2 linked regions of the Homo sapiens genome follow. The protein of the gene in region 2 interacts with the protein of the main gene of each other region in a pairwise test. Each region holds a gene or a part of one and is shown on either strand. Other genes may lie near its edges.

Region 1 (2,714 bases), on a different chromosome or scaffold from region 2:
ACAAAAAAGATACAAGTATCCTTAAGGCTCCTGCTACACATGGCCAGGAAGGTAGTCTATTGGACAGTTTTAAGGTCATTATCAATATTAGCTCATTTAATTCCCTCCAAAACTCTGTAAAGCACATTCTGCTACCATAGTTGTCATATTTTTGATGGGGGAATCTACAGTGAGAGGCAGTGCTGGGATCTGAACCCCATCTGGACAGATTAGCTCCAGGGCCCATGCTCTTGACTGGCTGGCCGTGCTGCCCACACTGAGTTGTTCCTTCCTGGCAGTGTAGGTGTGCCTATCTCAGGGACACTAGACAGCTCCGAGGGACCTCCCTGTCCTTTTCCTTTGTGAACTGTGTCACGTTCTCCAGAGCAGTGCTCAGACCTGCCCTGCCTGCTCTGTGCAGATGCCCTTGGCCAAGGTTTTCACACTGGAACAAGTTGGTCCCTCCTCCCCACCCCAGCCTGTCCTTGCCCCTCCTCCAGGTCTCCTTCTGCATAGGAGCAGCTCACCCTGCCTCCTCCAGAGTCCTGCCCTAGAAGCGCAATCCCTCTCCTTCCATCCCCTGCCTGGCTGCCTGGCTCCTTCCCTCAGCCTCCAAGACATGCTCAGTTTTCTTCCCTCCTAAAACACCACCCACTGTCTCATTTCCATTCATTTCTTTCTTTCTTTCTTTCTTTTTTTTTGAGAGGGAGCCTCACTCTGTCACCCAGGCTGAAGTGCAGTGGCATGATCTCCACTCACTGCAACCTCCGCCTCCCAGGTTCAAGCAATTCTCCTGCCTCAGCCTCCTGAGTAGCTGCGATTACAGGCGCCTGCCACGATGCCCGGCTAACTTTTGTATTTTTAGTAGAGACGGGGTTTCGCCATGTTGGCCAGGCTGGTCTCGAGCTCCTGACCTCAGGCAATCTGCCTGCCTCAGCTTCCCAAAGTGCTGGGATTACAGGTGTGAGCCACCGCGCCCACCCATTCATTTCTCAGTCCTTTGAATCTACTTGCCCCTCCATCCCGCCATGCCACCTACCCTAACAACCTTCCCCCTTAAACCTGCGGGTTTGGCCGGGCGCAGTACACTGAGTCAGTACTGGTACTGACCCAGGTACCCCTCCAGCCTCAGCTCCAGTCAGATGGGACAGCCTGCTGGTCCCTGGCTGCTTCTGCCCCCTCTTCTGGAGCCCCAGCCCTGGAGGCTCCATGTGGCTCAGCAGAACTTCTTCTCCTCCTGCTCTGTGGTGGCCTCTTGAGGGCAGCACTCACCTTGGAAAGCATGGAGTGTTTCAACCCTCACTGCTCCCTGAAGGACCAAGGTGTCCCATTTTACAGTCGGGGGAGGAGGCACTGTGATAAAGGGGCTCTTCAGACCCACGTCTGAGAGAGCCAGGCTGCCCTGCCCCCGCGGCCTTCCACCCTTCACCGTCCAGCCAGGGCCACTGCCATCACCGCCTGCTGGTCCTCACAGGCGTCGGGGCCCCAGGCAGTGAGAAGGCGGCTGCTGACTCCTCTTTCCTCCCCAGCTGCCAGGGACCTGGTGAGCAAAGAGGGCTTCCGGCGGGCCCGGCACGTGGTGGGGGAGATTCGGCGCACGGCCCAGGCAGCGGCCGCCCTGAGACGTGGCGACTACAGAGCCTTTGGCCGCCTCATGGTGGAGAGCCACCGCTCACTCAGGTGAGGCCCTCTGGGCGCCCCGCTCCTGCCGGGCACAGGCCGGCCCAGGCCCACCCCTTCAATATCCTCTCTGCAGAGACGACTATGAGGTGAGCTGCCCAGAGCTGGACCAGCTGGTGGAGGCTGCGCTTGCTGTGCCTGGGGTTTATGGCAGCCGCATGACGGGCGGTGGCTTCGGTGGCTGCACGGTGACACTGCTGGAGGCCTCCGCTGCTCCCCACGCCATGCGGCACATCCAGGTGGGCGGGCACCAGGGCCTGGGCGGGCAGGAGCGGCAGCTTCCCGGGGCCCTGCCACTCACCCCCAGCCCGCCTCTTACAGGAGCACTACGGCGGGACTGCCACCTTCTACCTCTCTCAAGCAGCCGATGGAGCCAAGGTGCTGTGCTTGTGAGGCACCCCCAGGACAGCACACGGTGAGGGTGCGGGGCCTGCAGGCCAGTCCCACGGCTCTGTGCCCGGTGCCATCTTCCATATCCGGGTGCTCAATAAACTTGTGCCTCCAATGTGGTACCTGCCTCCTCTAGAGGTGGGTGTATGCTTGGGTGTCAGAGAATGGGGGATGTCAGAACCGCTCCCCTACCCTAGGGGAGCACCTCTCAGGCCCCAGAAGAATGGGCAAGGCAGGGCCTAGCAGTAGCAAAACCATTTATTAAGTGCAGAACAAAGGCTGGGTCCTTGTGCTGCTCCCAGCTCTTTGGTTACAAATAGGTTTGGGCCCACAGAGGACGGACCTTGCCCCCTTCATGCCTCCCAGGAGACACCTAGCCCCTGCTCTGTGCATGCGGGTGGGCTGGGCCCCCAGGGGTGCAAGGATGGAGTAGCTGAGGAGGCTCCGGGAGAGGAGTCGGGAGGACGCCTAGTGGGACGTGGCGGGGGTGGGGCAGGGTGCGGTCAAGTTTGGAAGAACTGTTGGTCCATGTGGGTGCTAAGGGTTCCGCTGGTGGTCAGTGTCCGGCTCACAAACTCCTGGGTCACATGCCGGGTGAGGGAGCCGCCTGCCTCCAGGTGCTGGGCCCCCAGGGTCAGCCCATCTGTGGAGGAGGAGGCATTAGA
Region 2 (3,814 bases):
TCGGAAGAGGACGGGTGCCCACCCCGAGCGGCCCCACTCCATGGTCCTGGTGGGGAACTCCTCCACATGGAACACCCTCGCCTCCTTCCGGAAAATGGGATCCTTTAAGAAACTGAAGTCCTCAGTCCTGAAAGGAATTCAGAGCCGAGAGGGGTCAAATGCCTGTTCAAAGGGAGAGGCTTCGGAGCATGGCCTGGGAAAGTCCATCCCAAATGGCGCTGTCCCAGGAGCCCAGGCAAGCAGGGGCTCCCCCTTAGCACCGGGACCAGCATGTGGTGCCCTCAGGCCAGCAGAGTGGGGCACATTGGATGGCTCCGACCTCGAGGACACGGACGATGCCTTCCAGCGGAGCACACACCGCTCCCGCAGCCTCCGCAGAGCCTACGGCCTGGGCCGCATCTGCCTGCTGGATGCGCCCCAGAACCATGCGACACCCACGATAGCCACTGGCCAGGTGCCCGCCGTGTGTGAGATTCTCGTGAGGGACCCTGAAAACAACAGCATGGGCTACAGGAGGAGCAAGAGCACGGACAATCTTGCCTTTCTGAAGAAGAGCTCCTTTAAGCGGAAGTCCACCTCCAATCTTGCAGACCTCAGGACGGCCCATGACGCACGGGTACCACAGAGGACCCTGAGCAGTTCCTCCACTGACTCCCAAAAGCTTGGGTCAGGAAGGACCAAACGCTGGAGGAGCCCGATAAGGGCCAAGGACTTTGACAGAGTCTTCAAACTTGTGAGCAATGTGACTGAGGCTGCCTGGAGGAGGGAGAGTCCTAGGAGTGGGGCCCCATCCCCTGGAGAGGCCAGCCTGAGACTTCAGGCACACAGCCGGCTGCATGACGACTACTCCCGCCGCGTCTCCAGGAGCACTGAGCAGGACAGCAGGCGGGGCGGGGCGGTCATGCATGGGACCACTGCAACCTGCACCGTGGCCCCCGGTTTCGGCTCAGCCACCTCTAAGGGGCCCCACCTAGACGCTGACACTGCCGTATTTCCTCTTGAAACCAAAAGTTCCTGGGCGGTGGAAAGCGACAGTTCCTGCACTTGCAGCTCTTTGCCAAGCCCGATTGTCCAGGATGTGTTGAGCAAAGACTCCTGTGACCCAAACGCTGGCAGCCAGTTGACATTTGACCCTGAGCAGCCTCCCACCCCTCTAAGGCCCACCACACCCAAGCCCCAGAGCCCTCAGAGCCCCCAGAGCCCCGGGGCAGGAAGTGCCAGCTGTCACAGCAATCACAGTGCCCTGTCCGCGAATTCAGAGGAAAGTGAAGGAAGGGCAGAAGAGCCTGCTCAGAGAGAGCCAGGGCCTGTGTCCTTGCAGGATCCCCTGGAAGCCACACATGGTGATGAGGGCAGCAAGGACCTTCTGGTGAACATTGGTGTGGCAGCCGGCCCAGAAGAAAAGGAGAAGGAGGAGGTAAGGGCAGCGGCGAGGTCCCTCATGTGGGCGACCCTCCTGCGGGAAGGGAGCTTGCACAGGTGTTGCCCTTGGTCCCTAACCTGTCAAGGTCAGTGGCCCTCTGCTGACCTTGTTGCCCTTACAGTATTAGTGGGAATGGGAGTTGTCAAGTTGCTGTTTACCAAGTTCAGAAGTAATCTCTATCTCCTTTGAAATAAATTGACAATGTACGAGATTCATTGAGATGACATTTGCCACACCTTTCATTCAAAAGATGTTTATTGAACATGTACCAGGTACTAGATTCTGGGGGAAAAAAATAAGTTGTAAACAAACTGTCTTCTGCTCCATGCAGCTCTGACTCATATCTTTCTTCTTTGTATTTTAAGCTGTTTCTGTAACCTTTCCCACAAAGTACATATAAGTGAAATTCTTTCTGTTAAGAGACTATTACCTGTCCTAATGTCACAGCACCTGTGGGTGTCACTTGACCAGCTGGAAACCTCTGTGGGCTGGCAGTGCCTCTGCTTGAGTTTTGCTCGTGCCCACTAGCCTCGTTCCACCCATTCTGCCCAGCAGGCTGCATTCGGCTTGCACTGCCAGCCCAGATCCCATGCCTGCCAAGGGCAAACCAGGAATGGAGCAGCGAGGGGTGTGTGAGTGAGTGAGCATGGAGTCCAGCCTCTGCACACAGCCAGGCATGTCAGCTGTTGCAGCAGGGCAGGCAGCTCCAGGTGCCGGCACAGGTGCTGGCTCCATGCAAGGCTGTGGCTGGACCAGATGCACTGTAGCTGGCTTCCGCTGCAGGCACCAGCGTGTGGACGAGGGGAACGTGGTGACGAGTGAAAGCTCAGAGATACCAGGAATCACAGAGCCCCAAAGAGGGTGTTACGGCCTGTCACAGCCTGGTTCTCATCTGGGCTCCCAGAAGGGCCACAGCTCTCTTCTTCTCATCACCTGCATTACAGCAAGCAGGGGGGCTTGTTTCTGGGAGTATGTTTCACCCCATTTGTGTTATATCTCCTTCAGTCCCACTGCCCCACTCCAGCATGCAGCTCTTGGGCTGGTCTAGCCCCACCACTGCTTCCTGTTGCATGTTGCAGCTGCCTGGTGCTGGTGGAAATTGGGAGGGTTATAGTGTTACAACTTTAGTTGAGGGAATCCCAAGGTTTGGGCCCCCAGAAGGGTTGCCACTCTTCACGCCTGCAGTCCAGGGGCATGTCACTGTCTGTAGCTCGGTGAGCTGGCCAGGAATTTGTTGCAGCCCCTTTAACTCCCACCTGCAGCTGGGCGAGCCATCCGGGAAAGTGTTACAGCTCCTTTCGCTCCCACCATTGGGCAGGTTCCACATCCAGGAAAAATGAAGTTACGTGGACAAACGGAGGGTGAGCAAGGCTGAGAAGAGCTTTATTGGGTGACTGAACAACTCTCAGCCCATAGGAGACCTGGAATGTGTTGCTCCTCTCTGCAGGCAGGTAGTCCCAATGAGTGGCGGAGTCTGGGGGTTTTTATAGGCTCAGAATGGAGGAAGTGCATGCTGATTGGTCCATGGGCAGGCCTGGAAAAAGCACCATTTGATTGGTTGAAAGGCATCAAGGAAGTTCTCACTCCAGGTCGCTGACTTCACACGAAATTGGCATCTGTGCCCTGAGGCTTCAGGCTGTCCCTGGCTTGAAGGTGGGGTTTCACTGCGGACCCGCCCCTTCCCACCTAGGTACCTGTCCACCTCCCACCACCATCACTAAGTCTGTTTAATTTCCTAGGAATGAATTAGGAACATGCAGTTTGGTACCTGTCGGCCTTTGAATGATGCTTGTTTAAAGAGATTTTTATGATGGGTTATTGTACTTATTTTAGAGTAGATCATAAGCACCTCATTAATTGACTAAGCTAATAGCTGTCAAGGTTACAACAGCAGTTTTTTTCATATTCTATCAAACATCTTTATAATTTTCACTTTATAAACACTGAGTAATATTACCTTACATAGCTGGAAGATGGGGAAATGCATTCATGTGTATATATTGCAGATTATTCTTCACATACATTTCTAGATTGATTTGCAGGTATAGATGGTGCTTGCCATAGAGAATAATCCCCTAGCAAATGCTCCTTCCCACCCATCCCTGGGGAGGACCTCAGTTTTGTCTTAGCACCTACAGATGAATGATTGCACAGCAAGTTTGCAGACTCAGAAGCCAGGACAGCCTCTGCACTGTCCATCTTGACCTTTGCTGTACAGACAGACCTGGTTAGTAGAACCTTTGTAGAAAGACCTAGAAAGTAGGACTATCGCAGAGTACTTTCAGATTGAGATTAGTCTCAAGGTCCCCTGGGCAGCCAGAGAAGTGAGACTGCATATTGTCTGTTACCTGAGGTTCCCGTGGAGAGCTCACCAGTTTGAGAGGTCTTGAC

The links.
Region 1: the proteins of SPATA13 (region 2) and GALK1 interact in a two-hybrid assay, tested with the Homo sapiens proteins (one large-scale study listed by BioGRID and IntAct).

Annotation. Positions count from the first base shown.
Region 1 is NC_000017.11:75,757,394-75,760,107, reverse strand, and holds the end of GALK1 (galactokinase), read left to right. Parts: intron 1-1,508; coding exon 1,509-1,659; intron 1,660-1,735; coding exon 1,736-1,898; intron 1,899-1,980; coding exon 1,981-2,052; 3' UTR 2,053-2,214; downstream 2,215-2,714. Other genes in the region: ITGB4 (integrin beta-4), read right to left, coding at 2,553-2,692. UniProt on the Homo sapiens protein: Catalyzes the transfer of a phosphate from ATP to alpha-D-galactose and participates in the first committed step in the catabolism of galactose.
Region 2 is NC_000013.11:24,223,166-24,226,979, forward strand, and holds part of SPATA13 (spermatogenesis-associated protein 13), read left to right. Parts: coding exon 1-1,417; intron 1,418-3,814. UniProt on the Homo sapiens protein: Acts as a guanine nucleotide exchange factor (GEF) for RHOA, RAC1 and CDC42 GTPases. Regulates cell migration and adhesion assembly and disassembly through a RAC1, PI3K, RHOA and AKT1-dependent mechanism.